Homo sapiens: one gene and its partners. The protein of the gene in region 4 purifies or fractionates together with the protein of the main gene of each other region. This does not show direct contact. Each region holds a gene or a part of one and is shown on either strand. Other genes may lie near its edges. The genes, in order: PATL2, LSM1, NUDCD1 and XRN1.

Region 1 (4,682 bases), on a different chromosome or scaffold from region 4:
TTGTATGTTGTTTTGGGGACTTTTTTTGAGATGGGGATCTCGCTTTGTCACCCAGGCTGGAGTGCAGTGGTGCGATCTTGGCTCACTGCAACCTCTGCCTTTCAGGCTCAAGTGATCTGCCCATCTCAGCCTCCCAAGTAGTTGGGACCACAGGTGAGTGCCACTATGTCTGGCTAATTTTTTTTTTTTTTTTTTGGTAGAGACAAGCACTTTTGTAGAGACAGCACTTTCACCACCGTGTTTTCCAGGCTGGTTTCAAACTCCTGAGCTCAAGCCAAAGGCCTGCTTTGGCCTCCCAAAGTGCTAGGATTACAAGTGGGAGCCACCACTCCTGGCCCCTGTTGTATGCTTTTTTATTTCAGGTTACCATAAGGCTTGTATTTAATATTTTATAACCCATTATTTATTTTATTATTTTTGGCATATTCACAACATAACCCATTATTTTAAACCAATGAAAACTTACCACTGATTACATAAATAAAGAAGCAAAGAAAAAATTAATAAAAACTCTACATTTTAACTTTGTCCTCCTGCTTTTTAATTCTTTGTTGTTTGTGTTTGTGTCATATTGTACTGTCTATGTCTTGAAAAGTTGTTATAGTTATTAGTTTTGACTGGTTCAGCTTTTGGTCTTTCCACTCAAGATATGAGTAGTTTACATACCATGATTACAGTGTTACAATATTCTGTTTTTTTTCTGTGTACTTCCAATTACCAGTGAGTTTTACACCTTCAAATTATTTTTCATTGCTCATTAATGTCCTTTTCTTTCTGATTAAAGAACTCCCTTCAGCATTTCTTGTAGGACAGGTCTGGTGTTGATGAAATCCCTCAACTTTTGTTTGTCTAGGAAAGTCTTTATTTCTCCTTCATATTTTCAAGGATATTTATTTCTCCTTCATATTTCAAGGATATTTCCACTGGAAAGTCTGCTGCCAGACATATCAGAGCTCCATGGTATGTTATTTGTTTATTTTCTGTTGCTGCTTTTAGGATCCTTTCTGTATTCTTGACCTTGGGAGTTTGTTTATTAAATGTTTTGAGGTCATCTTCTTTGGGTTGAATTTGTTTGGTGTTCTATAACCTTCATATACTTGAATATTGATATCTTTCCCTAGGTTTGGGAAGGTCTTTGTTACTATCACTTTGAATAAACTTTCTACCCCATCTCTCTCTCTACCTCCTCTTTAAGGCCAATAACTCTTTTTTTTTTCTTTTTGAGACAGAGTCTCACTTTGTTGTCCAGGCTGGAGTGCAGTGCTGTGATCTTGGTTCACTACAGCCTCCACTTCCCAGGTTCAAGCAATTCTCCTGCCTCAGCCTCCAGAGTAGCCGGGATTAAAGGCGCCTGCTGCCACGTCCAGCTAATTTTTGTATTTTAGTTGAGACGGGGTTTCACGATGTTGGCGAGGCTGCTCTCGAACTCCTGACCTCATGATCTGCCCACCTTGGCCTCCCAAAGTGCTGGGATTACAGGAGTGAGCCACTGCACCTGGCTGCAGCCAGTAACTCTTAAATTTGCCGTTTTGAGGCTATTTTCTAGATCTTGTAGGCATGCTTCATTCTTTTTTATTCTTTTTTCTTTTGTCTCTTCTGATTATATTTTCAAATTGCCTGTCTTCAAGCTCACTAATTCTTTCTTCCACTTGATCAGTTCTACTGATAAGAGAGTCTGATGCACCCTTATGTATGTCAGTATCATTTTTCAACTCCATAATTTTTGCTTGATTCTTTTTAGTTATTTTAATCTCTTTGTTAAAGTTATATGATAGGATTCTGAATTCCTTCTCTGTGTTAGCTTTAATTTCTTTGAGTTTCCTCAAAACATTGTTTTTTTTTAGACAGAGTCTTGCTCAGTTGCCCAGGCTGGAGTACAGTGGTATGATCTTGGCTCACTGAATCTCCGCCTCCCAAGTTTAAGCAATTCTCCTGCCTCAGCCTCCTGAGTAGCTGGGATTACAAGCATATGCCACCACGCCCAGCTATTTTTGTATTTTTAGTAGAGATAGGGTTTCACCATGTTGGCCAAGCTGGTCTTGAACTCCTGAGCTCAAGTGATCTACCCACCTTGGCCTCCCAGAATGTTGGGATTACAGGTGTGAGCCACCGTGCCTGACCAAAACAGCTATTTTGAATTCTGTTTCAAAGGTCACATATCTCTGTTTCTCTGGGATTGGCCTCTGGTGCCTTATTCATTTGATGAGGTCATGTTTTCCTGGCTGGTCCTGATGCTTGTGGATGTTCATCAGTGTCTGAGTTAAATATTTATTATAGTCTTTGCAGTCTGGGCTGTTTGTATCTGTCCTTCTTGGGAAGGCTTTCCAGGAATTCAAAGGAACTTGGGTGTTGTGATCTAAGTTTTTGGTCACTGCAGCTGTATCTGCATTAGAGGGCACACCAAGCACAGAAATGCTGTGGCTCTTTCACAGTCTGTTGTATCTTTTTTGATTTGAGGTTACCATGAGGTTTGCAGATAATATTTTATCACTCATTATTTTAAACTGCTGACAACTTAACACTGATTACTCATAGAGGCACTGCCATGGTGGTCTTGGATAAGATCTGGAAGAATTCTCTGGATTACCAGGCAGAGACTCTTATTGTCTTCCCTTATTTTCCCCCAGGCAAAGTCTGTCTTTCTGTGATCAGCTGCCTGGAGTTGGGGGAGAAGTGACACAAACACCCCTGTGACCACCACTGGGACTGTGCAGGGTCAGACGTGAAGCCAGCATAGTACTGGGTCTTGCCCAAGGCCTATGGTAACCACCGCCTGGCTACTACCTATGTTCACTCAAGGCCCTATGGCTCTAAAATCAGCAGGTGGCAAAGCCAGCCAAGCTTATGTCCCTCTCTTTAGGGTGGCAAGTTTCCCCCAGCCTGGGGTGAATCCAGAGATGCCTTCCAGGAACTGGGGCCTAGTCAGAAACCTTAGGAATCTACCTGGTACTCTATTGCACTGAGGCTGAACTGGCACCCAAGCCACAAGACAAAGTCCTTCCCACTTTTCCCTCCCCTTTCCACAAGCTGAGGAGTCTCTTGCCATGGCCACTTCCACCCCAGGCCTGTGGTGGGTACTGTCTGGCTACTGCTGATGTATACTCAAGGCCCAAGGGCTCTGCAGTAAGCTTGTGGTGAACGCTGCCCAGCCTGGGACTCACCCTTCAGGGAAGCAGGCTCCCCTCTGGCCCAGAGCAGGTCCAGGAATGCTATCTAAGAGCCAAAGCCTGGAATCAGGGACCTTAAGAGGCCACTTGGTATTCTAACCCCACAGTGGCCAAGTCCCCTTTACTCTTTCCACTTCTTTTCTCAAGCAGAAGGAATTTCTCCCCATAGCCACCACAGCTGTAATGTGCTGGGTCACACCTTAAGCCTGCACGTCTCTGAGTCTCACCCAAAGCCCATGATGAGTACTACCTGGCTACTTCTGATTATTCAGGGCCAAAGGGCTCTTTAGTCAGCTGGTGAGGAATCCTGCCAGGACTGGTCCTTCCCTTCAAGGCAGCAGGTTCCCTTCTGGCCCAGGGTGTGGCTAGAAATGTCAGCTTGGAGCTATGGCCTGGAATGTGGGCCTCAGGACTTTGCCTGGTGCCCTATCCTACTGCAGCTGAGCTGGTATCCAATGCAAGACAAACTCATCTTTGTTCTTCCCTCTCCTCTTCTCAAGCAGAGGAAAGAAGTCTCTCTCTGAGCTTTGAGCTGCCCTGCCTGGGGTTGGGAGAGGGGTGGTGCAAGCAATCCCTTGGCCATCCCAGCTAGTGTCTCACTAGGTTGTGTGCCCCCCACATTCACTGGCTCTGAGCCCAGCACAGCACCAGGACTTACCCAGGAATTGCCATCCTTGTGGCCTAGACTGCCTTTCAAGTTTATGTAGAACCTCAGAGCACTTCAGCCCATGGTGGGGAGGCTTACTGGAACTCAGGTTCCCACTGCTGGGATGGGTGATTTGCCTCTAGCTAGGGCTGGTCTAAATGATCCCTCCATGGGACCTGGGTGAGTTCTTCCCAGTGTTGCTTTGTGCTATGACTGGGCAGCACTGAGTTCCAATGCAAAGTCTGAAAATCACTGCACTCTTCCTCTCCCAGAAGCACACATTCTCTCTCCATGCCAGGTGGCCGCTGCCGGCGAATGGGGGAGAGATAGCATTTAGCAATTCAAGACTGTCTTACCCTCTTCAGTTACTCTTTCAGTGATACGAAGTTAAAACCAGGTACTGTGATCACTCACCTGATTTTTGGTTCTTATGAAGGTGCTTTTTTTTGTGTGGATCATTATTCAATTTGGTGTTCCTGCAGGGAGCAGGATTAGTGGAGGCGTCTATTCAGCCATCTTGCTCCACCTCCCCTAGCTATGTCCTTTTAAATATTTATAATCGACATACAATATATTACACTTAAAGTATACAATAAGTTCTAAAATATAACTGAAATCATCATCGAACTCTAGATAATTAACATATCCATCAACCCTAAAGTTTCCTCATGTTTAGATGATCTCCTTTCCCTCTAGAAACCACTCATCTACTTTCTGTCATATAGATTATAGTTTGCCTTTTCTGGAGTTTTATATAAACAGAATCATATAGTATATGTTCTTTTCTGTCTGACTTCTTTTATTTACCATGATTATTTCATCCATGTTACATGTATCAACAGTTTATTCCTTGTTTGTTGATGATAGTA
Region 2 (4,837 bases), on a different chromosome or scaffold from region 4:
ATGCTTCCTTCTTGAAGTACAAATCTGTTAAGCTTTTCATGCAATCCCTACTCTTCGACAGTCACACAAAGTGCCATCACTATGGGCTTTCAGTCACTACAATACCATTTATGTTCCTTTTTGATGAGAACGTTAAGATACTCAAGACTCAATACAAAGGACTAGAACACCTAATTAAATTAGCAGAAAACCTGGAGAACAAGCCACTGTAAGAACATGTTGGGTCTCGTGGGGACTTAGTTTGGAATAGCCATGGGCGAAGCAGGAGCAAGAGCAACCATGATGTCGTTTCTCAAACATGAGTCTTCTGCAGTAACCAGTAACTGGGAAACAGCTGAAAGCTCCCTCCTCACGCCTGAGCGTTTATATTTTTTTTTTTTTTTTTTTGAGACGGAGTTTCGCTCATTGCCCAGGCTGGAGTGCAATGGTGCAATCTTGGCTCTCCGCAACCTCTGCCTTCCAGGTTCAAGTGATTCTCCTGCCTCAGCCTCTCAAGTAGCTGGGATTACAGCATGCGCCACCACGCCCTGGTAATTTTGTATTTTTAGTAGAGACAGGGTTTCTCCATGTTGGTCAGGATGGTCTTCAACTCCCGACCTCAGGTGATCTACCCGCCTCGGCATCCCAAAGTGCTGGGATTACAGGCATGAGCCACCGCCCCTGCCGAACATTTGTATTTCTTAACAGATACAAACATGGAAACAGGAGAGGACCCCTGAGATGACTGGAATAAAAATATTCCTTCCTAAGTAGCCAGCTACTTGAAACTGTGACTGAAGGGGGAAATCCCAGTATGTGGACTGCTTATACCTTTGAGAGCAGAAACTTAATTAATCTATTAATCTATTCATTACAGGTAACTCAAACTTGGAAATAACATGACACTTTTGAGATTCATATTTTATTTACAAGTAAATGAAGACTGTCCCTGTAAACTCTAATTTGGGATATGAAGAACAATATAAAGAAGTAGTTGCTGGTGCCACAGTGATGTGTGAAGGAGTCTATGCCACTGTTTCTTTAAACAGTGATTTTGTTATTAAAAAAAAAACCCACCTACACGATTTCTTCATGTTGCATATGTAAAATAATTAAAAATAAAAGTGACTTTTCAAAACTCTACAGTCTGTGATCAAATGCGTGAGGTGGCCAGGATGTCACTTTCACTCAGTGACAGCCCCTACTCTTCAAGAGCCAACAGCCTCTGGGCAAAAGATTAGTACTCATCAAGAGTATCTGCTCGAGGAATGGAAAGACCTCGGTCCTTCAGGGCCTGCACTTTCAACTTCTCTGCTTCCAGCTTGGTCTGCTGTTCCACCCTTTGTTCTTCTAGAATTTCTTCAATGGATACTTGCTGGAGGGGTGTGTCACTCTCCTTTTCCAAGTCCTACAAAAGAGACAGGTTTGAAAACTTCACCTGAAGACCAAGAATAGAAAGCACAGATCTCAAGGCAAATGGATTCCTCTATCAGGCTCAGATTATTTTTCATAACTGTGACAGGAACTGAAATATCCTTCTCCTAGGGACCGGTAAGTTTTTCAAAGAAATGCCTGACAACACTACTATAGGATACATACTTACAATGAGGTTAATAGTGATCAGTATATGTATATATTTTTCAAGATGGAGTCTCTCTGTCACCCAGGCTGAAGTGCAGTGGCGCAATCTGAGCTCACTGCAACCTCTACCTCCTGGGTTCAAGCGATTATCCTGCCTCAGCCTCCTGAGTAGCTGTGATTACAGGCACGTGCCACCACGCCTGGCTAATTTTTGTATTTTAAGTAGAGACAGGGTTTCACCACGTTGGTCAGGCTGGTCTCGAAACCTGACCTCATGATCTGCCTGCCTTGGCCTCTCAAAGTGCTGGGATTATAGGCAGTAATAAGTATTTGTATAACAGAGCTTTATGTGATCCAAAATCCCATATTAGTCAGGATTAATTTTCTATTAGTCCACGATTAATTTCCTTAAAAAAAAAAATTAGGGCTGCTTATAGACAGCTATCTCCCCCACTGCAGAGAATCCAAGAGGGAGGTTATTGAGGCAATGTGGCCTTAGACTTTTTTTTTTTTTTAATTATTTTAAGGACGGGTGGAGTGGCTCACAGTCGTAATCCCAGCACTTTGGGAGGCTGAGGTGGGAGGATCACTTGGGCCTAGGAGTTCGAGACCAGCCTGGGCAACACAGTGAGACCCTAACTAACTCCACCAAAAAACAAAACAAAAAAAAGCTGGTGTGGTGGTGTTCACCTACAGTTCCAGCTACTCAGGAGGCTGAGGTGGAAGGACTGCTTGAGCCTGGGAGGTTGAAGTTCAAGGCTGCAGTGAGCCATGAATGTGTCACTGCACTCCAGCCTCTGCAACAGCAAGACCGTCTCAAAAAAAGTAAAAAGACAAAAATAAAAAGGGATCCTCTTGCCTTTACCTCCTACGTAGCTGGGGCTACAGGTGTGCGCCACCGTACCAGCTCTGTAGTCTAGATCTAAACTGTAACAAGACTCTTTTTCCCTTTACGGCAACAAGTCTTCTAGGGAGAACCTCGGCAGACCATTTAGGTTACTAAACCAATTTGGTCCCAATATTTTTCTCCACTATTTAAAAAATTGCTGCTTAGGTTGGGCATGGTGGCTCACGCTTGTAATCCCAGCACACTGGGAAGCCGAGGCGGGCAGATCACTTGAGGCCAGGAGTTCGAGACCAGCCTGGCCAACATGGCAAAACCCCCGTCTCTACTAAAAATACAAAAAAAATTAGCTGGGCGTGGTGGCAGGTGCCTGTAATCCCAGCTACTTGGGAGGCTGAGGCAGGAGAAGCACTTGAACCTGGGAGGCGGAGGTTGCAGTGAGCGGAGATCACGCCATTGCACTCTAGCCTGGGTGACAAGAGTAAAACTCCATCTCAAAAAAAAACAAAAAATTGTTGCCTAATAAAAAATTCCTTATTTAAAAAATACACACTCATCGTAGATAATATGGAAAATAGACAAACAAGGAAAATTTAAAAATTATCCATAATTCCAGTATGGAGGATTAACATTTTGATAATATCCCTACAATTTTTCTACATATATACTGACTTAAAAAAAATAAACAACCCAGCCAGGTGTGGTGGCTCACACTTGTAATCCCAGCTACTCGGGAAGCTGAGGCACGAGAATCACTTGAATCCAGGAGGCAGAGGTTGCAGTGAGCCAAGATCACACCACTGCACTCTAGCCTGGGCGACAGAGTAAGACTCTGTCTCAAAAGGAAAAAAAAAAAAAAGTAAAAAATAAAAAATTAGCTGGGCGTGGTAACGTGTACCTATAGTCCCAGCTACTCATGAGGCTGAGGGGGGAGGATCACTTGAGCCCAGGAGTTTGAGGCTGCAGTGAGCTGTGATCACACCACTGCAGTCAGCCTAGATAACAAAGTGAGACGCTGCCTCAAAAACAAACCCCTCCCAAAAACCCACAATGCAAATACTGACTTTAATTCGTTTTTTCACTTAAATGTGGCATAGTATGCTTAATATTTTTATTTTTGAATGTTTTATAAACATTTTTCATTAATTATTTTTAAAGATATAGAAGACTTCATGAATTTGCGTGTCATCCTTAAGCAGGGGCCGTGCTAATCTTCTCTGTGTTGTTCCAATTTTAGTAGATGTGCTGCCAATGTGAGCACATTTTTCATTTTTTTAGAGACAGGATCTTGCTCTGTTGCCCAGGGTGGAGTGCAGTGGCACAATCACAGCTCACCATGATCTGAAACTCTTGGGCTGAAGTGATCCTCCTGCCTCAGCCTCCTAAGTAGCTGGAACTACAGGCATGTGCCACCACATCTGGCATTAAATCTTTTTTCTTTTTGTAGAGATGGGGTCTTGCTATGTTGCCCAGGCTGGTCTCAAACTTCTGGCCTCAAGCATCCTCTTGCCTTGGCCTCCCAAAGTGTGAGCCACTGTGCCTGGCCCTTATAAACATTTGCTAACCAATGTCATAATGCAGAAGAACCTTGCTAAAAAAGTATCTCACTGTCCATAGATTCAGTTTATTGTCCTTAAAATGAATGTACAGGTATTATTTGGTGTTTTTGTAAGATGGAAAGCCTATACAAAGTATTCCTGTTTCTTACCCTCCTCTATGACTTTCAATGATAAAAGTTTGGGACGGTACTGACACACTTCTCCAGATGCTCTGCCCTGCATACTATTACCACATGCTGCCAAGGTCTCAGAACTCACAGGCAGTGGCATTATCAGTCAGAGAGGACTCTCACCACAGAAGTTACAATGAAAGCCACACAAATTACATAAGCAAGCCCTGCTCTAGGTCCAAAGTTAACAGCACCCAGCAAAGTATATATTACCACCTGCCCTCCCAACCCATGAGTAGCAGCTAAAGAGAGCACAGTGTTCTCGGCCTAATGCACTGCCTCTTGGGCTTTTCAGTATGTGACTTGCTAAGCAATTCATGCTGCTGTTGCTGCTTCTTCCCAACAGTCTTATTACTTAATGCTGTGTCATCATCATCGTCCTTGAGGCAGAATTCAGGGATTTCTTAACCAATATAGTGTTTACAGAAACTGATTTCTATGTATGAATTCCTCTGGGGTTGGTACATAATTTCTCCTGATTGCTGATTCACATAACAATGCAGGCATTCCTGGAACCAAGTTTCTGTAGTGGTACCCCTGTAAAACTTCTGCAGCATCCAAACCATAACATATTTTTTTAAAAAAGGGAACTTTTCCTCACAAAAGGGATCCAAGGAAACAATTAAACTTCAAGAACAAACACGTTCACCTCTTTCTCTGCACAAACACACACATCTACTTAGATGTAACTTTGTGCCAATGTA
Region 3 (4,516 bases), on a different chromosome or scaffold from region 4:
AAGGTCCTCTATTCTTTTCTCACTGCTGTCTCTTCAAGTATGGATGGACCAGAGATCATTCAATTATATTAATCCTCATAATATTCAATACATTCTTTAGGCACTTGGCTCATGAAAGTAGATGTATTGTTGTGAAAATATTGTTTCAACTTGTATTTTATTTTAGCTGTTGTTTATTTTTCTTCTGTGAAAGCCCTTGGTTAAAAAAAATAGAGTATCAGAGTTGGAGTACAGGGAAGAGAGCTGAAGCAGTGTTAGGTCTGTCAAACATAATAATAAAAGGCCAGTTAGGTAGTGGTGACTTTGAAAATAAACCTCATCTAGCCACTGATCATCGGGAGTAAGGAGAGAAAAGAAATAGTCTGTGGTCTCTGTGTGCTGGCCTTCTCCCCTTATTTTGTAGAGAGCAAGCACTGGCTCTACGAAAAAGCCCTATTTCCCTGGCATTGCTGGGGAGCAGAAGATGGGTTGCTCTGACACTGTATTCTCCTGTGACCAATAGCCTGTGTTGTCACAGCTTTACCAATAATAGGTCCCCTTGCTGGAGAGCCACTTCACAGCTTTCCCTGTTGAATTCAGGTCAGGTCTCCACTTCTTACTTTAACCCAATCTTTTACGGTTCTCCAGTCTGCTTGCAAACTCCTAGAATCAATTACATATTTATAAGTACTGTGCATATTTTATATTTTCTACATTTGATGTGATTTTTGTTGGTATTCTGTTTCGTATTTTCAACTCTGATAATAACATTTCTCATAAAGAAGACTATCCTTACAACATGTCTTCATTTAGAAAAAGTATTGCTGTAGATGAAATTCAGTGAGTTTCAATTTGATGATTTTGTATTAAAATGCATTTCTTTAGGCATCAATATTGCAGTAACAATTATTGATGTGTTACAATAACAAATGTTGACATTATTGACATATTGACATTGATACTTTAATTAAGCAGTACGTTTAAGTAAATAGTTTTAAACATCTGAGTGTGAATTCCAGCATTGTGATATTTCTCTTTAGCCTAGAACAAGTTACTCAAACTCTCCAAGCCTGTTCTTTCATCCCTTAAATGAAGATAATAATAGCCTTGCGAGTTGTTAAGATTAGTATTTATAACATGCCTGGTTATAAATGTTATGAGAGTGTGCTCATAAATTCTGGTAGTGTCATTGTTCTTGGTAATTATTACAAGTTAGCATTAGTAAACTTCATGTGTGTATTCTATGGCCTAAAAATAGTCTGCTTATAAAATTGGTGCTTTATATCAGCAGTCCCCAACCTTTTTGGCACCAGGGACCAGTTTTGTGGAAGACAGTTTTTCCATGGGCCTGTGGGGGCTTGGTGGATGGTTTCAGGATGAAACTGTTCCACCTCAGATCATCAGGTATTAGTTAGATTCTCATAAGGCAGACAGCCTAGATCCCTTGCATGTGCATTTCACAATAGTGTTCACCCTCCTGTGAGAATCTAATTCCACTGCTGATCTGACAGGAGGTGGAGCTCAGGCAGTAATGCTCCCTTGCCTGCTGCTCATCTCTTGCTGTGCGGCCCAGTTCCTAAAAGGCCACTGACTGGTACCAGTCTGCGGCTCAGTGACTGGGGACCCCTGCTTTATATCGTGTTTTAAACTATTTACTAACAATTAAGAGGTGGTATATCACGTGGTGATTAAGAACATAGACTCTGGGTCCAAATTTCAGCTCCATGACTTATGGCCAGGCTGACCATCGACAAGTTACCTAAATGCCTTGTGCATCACTTTCCTCAGCTTTGAAATGAACATAACAGTAGCACATTTATCTCAGGGATATTATGAGGAGTCAATCAGATTAAGTATATAAAAAGTATAAAACAGTTGCTGACACTTAATGCTGGCTGTCAGCTTCTGCCATTGTTATTGTTGCTATTATTAATTTGTTGTTGAGTAAATTTTTTTTTAAATCACTTTTTAGGTGAATCTTGGAAGCAACCAGTACCTTTTCTCTGTCATAGTGGATCCTAAAGAAATGCCCTGCTTCTGTTTGCGCCATGATGTTGATGCCCTACTCTGGCAACCACACTCCAGCAAACAAGATGATATGTGGGAGCACATCGCAACTTTCAATGCTTTAGGTATAAAGCAAACTCTTTGACATTTTCCATGAAATCAGAAATACAGTCATCATTCATTTAAAGTTCATTTCTTTTTTTTCTTTTTAATTTGAGCTGTCCTGATTACATTTAGATTGATTTGCGCTATGATTTGTTTGCTTGTACTAGTTGTGAGTGTTAGCACTGTTGGAACATTTAGACTAATCTGTTTTTATGCTTGTACAGAAGATCAACACAGAATAGAAATGAAAGTGGTTATCTAACCACTTGAATTATTCTAATAAGTCATTTGCTTTTTCTAATTCTGTAAGCCATATAATACTGGAGTCTGAGCAAGGAGCTTGATAATACCCTACATGGAACTGGTGTTCAAGTTTCTTCAGAGTAATCTTCAGAAACATCATAGAATTCCCCTAAGGTGTAATGCACATTAGGAGACATCTTTTGTCAAAATTAAGTACAAAAGAGAGCCATTATAATGAAAATACTTATGGAAAGCGGTGATAAGCAGAAATTAAATTTATTTGGTAGGATAAAAGGAAAAAAATCAGTTTTAAAATTAGGGCTTGACAATGTTTAAACTACTTAATTATAGACGTATGCAATCATTGATTTTCTGTCAAAATGCATTAGTATTGTGTGACAGAAATTTTTTATGTGAATTAGCCACAGTTGTTGCTTTATTGAAAGGTTATTTTAAACAGGCAGCAAGAAGTGAAGTTACGTATTTTGATGGCTATATGTGCACAACCCTAATTGTAGAAGAAATTTATTAATTATCCCTTATAGTTAATAATGTAGGCTGCTAAACTGGTTCAGACTCCAAATGGATTTTTATGACCTGAAGTACAAAGTTTGGTTAACTAATTTAACCATATAATTTTTAGCCTCCCTACTATAATGCTATTTTTTAATTATCTATACTTTGGTCAGAAGAAAGCTCTATCATATCATCTTTAGATGCTCAGATGTTCTATTTGTATCCCCAAATCCCCTATTATAGGGGAATTCTATGCTTAATTCTAAGTTAAATCAACATATATTAGATATGTACTCTTGAAATATTATATACATTATTCTGTCAAGGTTAGCCTGGATAGCTACTTTAAACTATTTAAATAGGTATCTAAATCTTCACTTTTCCTGCTTCAAACCTGCTTAATATTTTTAAAAACAGTATTGATCTGCATGTGCTCAGTAGTTCCTTTGCTTATTCATTGTTTGATGAGATCTCAATTTTAATTAATGTTATATTCTTATTTTACATGATCATAAATACCTAACATTTGCTAACCATGTCACTATCTAAAAATCATAATTTATATTTTGGAATATAAATGTTGTTTTAATCCAAAAAGATACTTTTTAAACATGTACATGAATTAAGATAAGGATTTTTTTCAGTTTAGAGACTTGAAATTATTTTTGAAGTTATAGTGATCAACATTCTACTTGTGGGGGCTAAAAGTACAAAAAAATCCAGTTACAGTGTTGGTATTGATGTATAAAAATATCACTAACATTTTAGGGATAATAAGAGAATGCATCACGAATACTAGTACATTCAGGGATACATTATGAACAGAAAACTAAAATAACTTTATGATGGTATCCTATACACATTTTCCAATTTATTTAAGAGGAAAAAAATGGTTCTGTGATGCCCTATCCGTAACTCACGAAGCTAAATATTAAATTGGCACTTAAAGATATTTTGTCATGTATTGAGTGTTTTAGATTTTAGAATTTTAGTGTTCGAATTATTCGTGGAAATTAAATGAAGCTATATTACGCTTTTTTTGAAGCGAGAAAGCCATATCTGTTTTGTTCCTTAGGAATTAAAGTCGTATTTTTGTACCAGATGGGAGAGACTGATTGTGGCTAATCGTTAATGATTCAGAATTATATACCTTATGGTATATATTTTACTTGGGCATTTTAATTTGTAATAAACATTGCAAAATATTAAATGTTAAATCATCATTTTTCCCCTTCTGTTTAATATATAGTTTTTCTTTTGTTTGTCTCATATTCTTGGCAGGCTATGTCCAAGCATCAAAGAGAGACAAAAAATTTTTTGCCTGTGCTCCAAATTACTCGTATGCAGCCCTTTGTGAGTGCCTTCGTCGAGTATTCATCTATCGTCAGCCTGCTCCCATGTCCACTGTACTTTACAACAGAAAGGAAGGCAGGCAAGTAGGACAGGTTGCTAAGCAGCAAGTAGCAAGCCTAGAAACCAATGATCCTATTTTAGGATTTCAGGCAACAAATGAGAGATTATTTGTTCTTACTACCAAAAACCTCTTTTTAATAAAAGTAAATACAGAGAATTAATTATTCTAACATATTGGCCTCTTTGTACTGGAAAAGTATTCAGTGGTACCTGGAGGTCTGGACAGTTATACTGTAACCTCTTAAGTTTTAAT
Region 4 (4,682 bases):
TCCTTCTTATGATTTGGGATTGCCTCGTTTTATTTCTCTTCCTCTCTATAGGCATTTCAGAAATTGATTTGGTTTCTTTTTTTCTATTAGCTTCTGTCATTTAATGAGATCTTCAATAATCAGTTCCTTATTTTTACTGTTGAAGAGGTACATTGTGTTTTATGTTAATAAATGTGGAAAACATTTCTAAACATAAAAGCCCAGAAAATGAATTATTTTCTGGGCTTTTTAAAAAAATTACTTAAAACATGTTATTAAAAACAATTATTTAAGGCCAGGTGCAGTGGCTCACACCTGTAATCCCAGCACTTTGGGAGGCAAAATGGGTGGATTACCTGAGGTCAGGAGTTTGAGACCAGCCTGGCCAACGTGGCGAAACCCCATCTCTACTAAAAAAACAGAAATTAGTTGGATGTGGTGGCACACACCTGTAATCCCAGCTACTTGGGAGGCTGAGGCACGAGAATCACTTGAACCTGGGAGACAGAGGTTGCAGTGAGCCAAGACTGAGCCACTGCACTCCAGCCTGGCTGATAGAGTGAGACTCTGTCTCATAAAAAAGAAAAACAATTATTTAAAACCTGACAGGGAGGATACCATGATCATGAAGGTAGTTTTCCCAGGGCGAGGTTTATCCATTGCACTCTGGATGTGCTGATGCCCTGCGATTTCGCCAAATGTGGGAAACTGAACTGCGTGACTTATGGTAGTGGAGGACTGCATTCACACTTTCCCCTGGCAATTTTTTTTTAATTAAAAAAAAATTGTTATTTTAAAACAATGGACTAGTTTTTAAAATGTGGATATTTATAGTGTTTAATGATATGAGACATTAACTAGATCAGTGATTTTTCTCTAGAAATGATTTACATATAAAATACAATAGTCTAAGTTAATAGTAATGGCAAAAACCACAATTACTTTTGTGCCAGCCTAATAGCACAATATCTAGTAAATGTTATGTGCTTAATAAATGAATAATAGAATCAATTAGAATATGATAGTACCCTGCAGAGCATCTCTGATAATCTCCAAAGAATGTCTTGTGTTAACTTGAAAAGTAAACCTCTTGTGAAAAATTCTTCAGCCTCTCTGTAATTATTGGATTCTGCTGAGTTTCTTTTTTTTTTTTTTGGAGACAGCATGTCACTCTGTCACTCAGGCTGGAGTGCAGTGGCGCGATCTTGGCTCACTGCAACCTCTACCTCCTGGGTTCGCTTGAATTCCCCTGCCTCAGCCTCCTGAGTACCTGGGATTAGAGGTGCGCGCCACCACCCAGCTAATTTTTGTATTTTTAGTAGAGACGGGGTTTCACTATGTTGGTAATGCTGGTCTCGAACTCCTGACCTCGTGATCTGCCCACCTTGGCCTCCCTTAAGTCCTGGGATTACAGGCGTGAGCCACCGTGCCCGGCCAAGATTCTGTTGAGCTTCTTACTCTCCTTGCTGTACTGGTTCTATTTAGGTTCAAACTTAATGACTCTTGCTCCAGGAGGGGCAACTGTCCTTGTTTTCTCTAGTGTAGTCCTTCTCGCTGCTTAGCTCTTCCTCACTGGAACTTGGCAGCAGTCAGTCTGCATTCCACTGGTTTTTGTGTGTGTGTGTGTGTCTTTTTTTTTCCCCCCCTAAGAAAACGGGCTCTGCAACTTTTTGGGAACCTGTACACACAAAACTTACCTGTCAGTAATCCCTGGCTCCCCCACCACAATTCAGTACTTAAACTTCACCAGTCTTCCAGCCATATGCAGCTAACTTTAGAGACACTGTGCAGGAATAGCCCAGACACAGGAAGTTGGTAGAGGCCATAAGTTGGATGAAAGAAAGGAAATGGGGATAAGGGAGTAGGAAGAACTAAAGAGAGTCATTGGCAGTAGACAGGAAATCAGAGAATAGAGGAGAGAAAGGATTGAGATCACAAGGGAGGAAAAACAGATGGGCAGGATATGAAGGATGTTATAACATGGAAGAACTATAGAAAAGCAAATGGGTGCATGGAAGAGAAATGACATCTCATTTTGAAATGTATCTTGCCATTCATTTTATGTTGATTTACAATTTACAGGGCCAGGAAAATTCTCTGTGTTGGACTGCTTTAGACAAAAATGAAGGCGAAATGATAACTTCTAAGGGTAAGTATGAAGTATGTGTTTTGATATGTTACTACTTTGACAGGATAATTGTTATACCTTTTATTTATTATTACTAATTTTGGGTGGAACAGATTTCTGTGATAGCATATAAGCATCAACTTGGATATGCATTTATCAAATCATTAGGTGGAAAAACAGGCTATTCATAATTGTCAGTCACTATCTTTCTGACTTTTTTCCCCAGATAATTTAGAAGATGAGACTGAAGATGATGACCTATTTGAAACTGAGTTTAGACAATATAAAAGAACATATTACATGACGAAGATGGGGGTTGACGTAGTATCTGAGTACGTTTTTGCCAATGCTTTTATTTTAAAATAGAAAAAATTAGATTTTGCAGTTATTCAGAAAATATGATTTTGATGAAGTAGTGGGAGAAAAAGGATTTTTTGGTTTCATGAATTATTGTGTATGTTTCAACTAGTCTGGTTTTGGAGAAGATGGTATTAATTCTGACTTGTATTATATTCCTGTGATAAAAATTGCTGAAGAGAAAATGATCCTTATGTATAAGGATTTTTGTTACAAAGTTGTTTATAATAGTAAAAAAATTAGAAATAATCTAAATGTCCAATAAGAAGGTTCATCATAATTGGCCACTGCTTCTTCATTACAGTCACCATCTCTGTCACCTCTTCCATCTCCGGAATCTGCAGAACTGCTAAACTGGTACTTGCAGAAAGTTCATAACAATTTGGAAGGATGCTTATAGTACATTATTAAGTACAAATTGTAAAGGCAAGACATGAAATCATACATACAGTATGCTCTCATTAACCTTAAAAAAACCTAGATATAGATAAAAGACTGAAACACTAAAAATGTAAAAGTGATGGCTATAAGATGATAAAAATGCTGTTCTTCATTGTCCAGATTTTCACTCCTGAGGAAATAGTTCTTTTATAATAAAAAAGCAATATTTTTCATATTAAAAAACTACCTCCCAGAAATATGTAGTTATGTAATTTCTAAGTGAATATTTTTGCCTTTAGCCCAGGGCTCTGTTTTGTTTTGTTTTGATGATTTGAAGACTTATTTTACCCAAACTTAGAAGATGGCATTTGGTTTTTGACAAAGAAAGGATTAGAAGGAATATTGTTCACATACAGCACTTCTGAAAGCATTCTAGCTTCTGTGACCAAATTTTAAGATCTTCCTGATTTGCTGCTTTGCTTCTCTCAGATATCATCCCATGTAAAGAAGATTCCCATCCCTTTCTCCCGTCTCACCCCCACTATTTAAGAGAGTGGTAGTGTCACTATGGAAAGCTTCATTGGGTAAATCTTCAACCTTTGGACCAAGGGAGTGGTACATTAACTGAGTAAATATGAATAACAGACTTATCTATTTTGATAGTTGGTTTAGGAAAACTGTCATGTGACAGGATGTAATTTTTAAAAATATTTTGGAGTTTTTAGGATTATAATTTTTAGCCATAAATAGCTAATTCATTGATTAAATAAATCATCTGAGGTAAAATGTTGTATCAGCAGATACCGTGCTCTAAAGACACGGGCCTGTCTTCAGAAAATATGTTATAATGAAAATATTCTATTTTCAGTGACTTTCTGGCTGATCAAGCTGCATGTTATGTTCAGGCAATACAGTGGATTTTGCACTATTACTATCATGGAGTTCAGTCCTGGAGCTGGTGAGAGAATAAAAACAAAAATAAAGTTTTGTCTTTTTATAATGATTCATTCTACTAGAGTCTTATTTAGGAAGCACTTCCTTTTATTTCTACTTATGGTAATTTTTTTTTTTTTTTTTTTTTCACTCTGTTGCCCAGGCTGGAGTGCAGTGGCATGATCTCGGCTCATTGCAATCTCCGCCTCCTGGGTTCAAGCAATTCTGCCTCAACCCCCTGAGTAGCTGGGATTACAGGCATGCGCCACCACGGCCAGCTAATTTTTATATTTTTAGTAGAGATGGTGTTTCGCCATGTTGGCCAGGCTAGTCTCGAACTCCTGACCTCAGGTGATCCGCCCACCTTGACCTCCCAAAGTGCTAGGATTACAGGCATGAGTCACTGCACCCGGCCTCTACTTATGGTAATTTTTTAAAAGTTCCATACAACCAGGTTTAAATGAAACATAGGTAATATTTTCTCCAGCCCTAACAGAAGGCTCATAATAAGAGGTCTTAGTTAATGTAAAGATTTAATGTTCTCTATCAAAGTTAGTCAAGTTTGGCAAAGTCTTGATAATTACTGGGTTTGAGTGATGGTTATGTGAGGGTGTTCATTATATTCTCTTTACATTTTTTGTGTTTGCTAAAAAATTCTCTATCAAGAATAATTATTGAAGTGTTCGGGCACAGTGGCTCATGCCTCTAATCCCATCGCTTTGGGAGGCCAAGGTGGGCAGATCACTTGAGGTCAAGAGTTTTGAGACTAGCCTGGCCAACATGGTGAAACCCCATCTCTACTAAAAATACAAAAATTAGCTGGGCATGGTGGTGTGCCTCTGTAGTCCCAGCTACTTGGGAGGCTGAGGCTGGAGAATCGCTTGAACTTTGGAGGCAGAGGCTG

Evidence for each region.
Region 1: the proteins of XRN1 (region 4) and PATL2 purify together in Homo sapiens (co-immunoprecipitation; one large-scale study listed by IntAct). This does not show direct contact.
Region 2: the proteins of XRN1 (region 4) and LSM1 purify together in Homo sapiens (co-immunoprecipitation; one large-scale study listed by IntAct). This does not show direct contact.
Region 3: the proteins of XRN1 (region 4) and NUDCD1 purify together in Homo sapiens (co-immunoprecipitation; one large-scale study listed by IntAct). This does not show direct contact.

Annotation. Positions count from the first base shown.
Region 1 is NC_000015.10:44,703,979-44,708,660, forward strand, and holds part of PATL2 (protein PAT1 homolog 2), read right to left. Parts: intron 1-4,682.
Region 2 is NC_000008.11:38,162,454-38,167,290, forward strand, and holds the end of LSM1 (U6 snRNA-associated Sm-like protein LSm1), read right to left. Parts: intron 1,388-4,837; coding exon 1,217-1,387; 3' UTR 886-1,216; downstream 1-885. UniProt on the Homo sapiens protein: Plays a role in the degradation of histone mRNAs, the only eukaryotic mRNAs that are not polyadenylated. Probably also part of an LSm subunits-containing complex involved in the general process of mRNA degradation.
Region 3 is NC_000008.11:109,242,917-109,247,432, reverse strand, and holds part of NUDCD1 (nudC domain-containing protein 1), read left to right. Parts: intron 1-1,951; coding exon 1,952-2,111; intron 2,112-4,131; coding exon 4,132-4,424; 3' UTR 4,425-4,516.
Region 4 is NC_000003.12:142,416,261-142,420,942, reverse strand, and holds part of XRN1 (5'-3' exoribonuclease 1), read left to right. Parts: intron 1-2,061; coding exon 2,062-2,128; intron 2,129-2,333; coding exon 2,334-2,439; coding exon of another isoform or gene 2,440-2,473; exon of another isoform or gene 2,474-3,102; intron 3,103-3,713; coding exon 3,714-3,803; intron 3,804-4,682. UniProt on the Homo sapiens protein: Major 5'-3' exoribonuclease involved in mRNA decay. Required for the 5'-3'-processing of the G4 tetraplex-containing DNA and RNA substrates. The kinetic of hydrolysis is faster for G4 RNA tetraplex than for G4 DNA tetraplex and monomeric RNA tetraplex.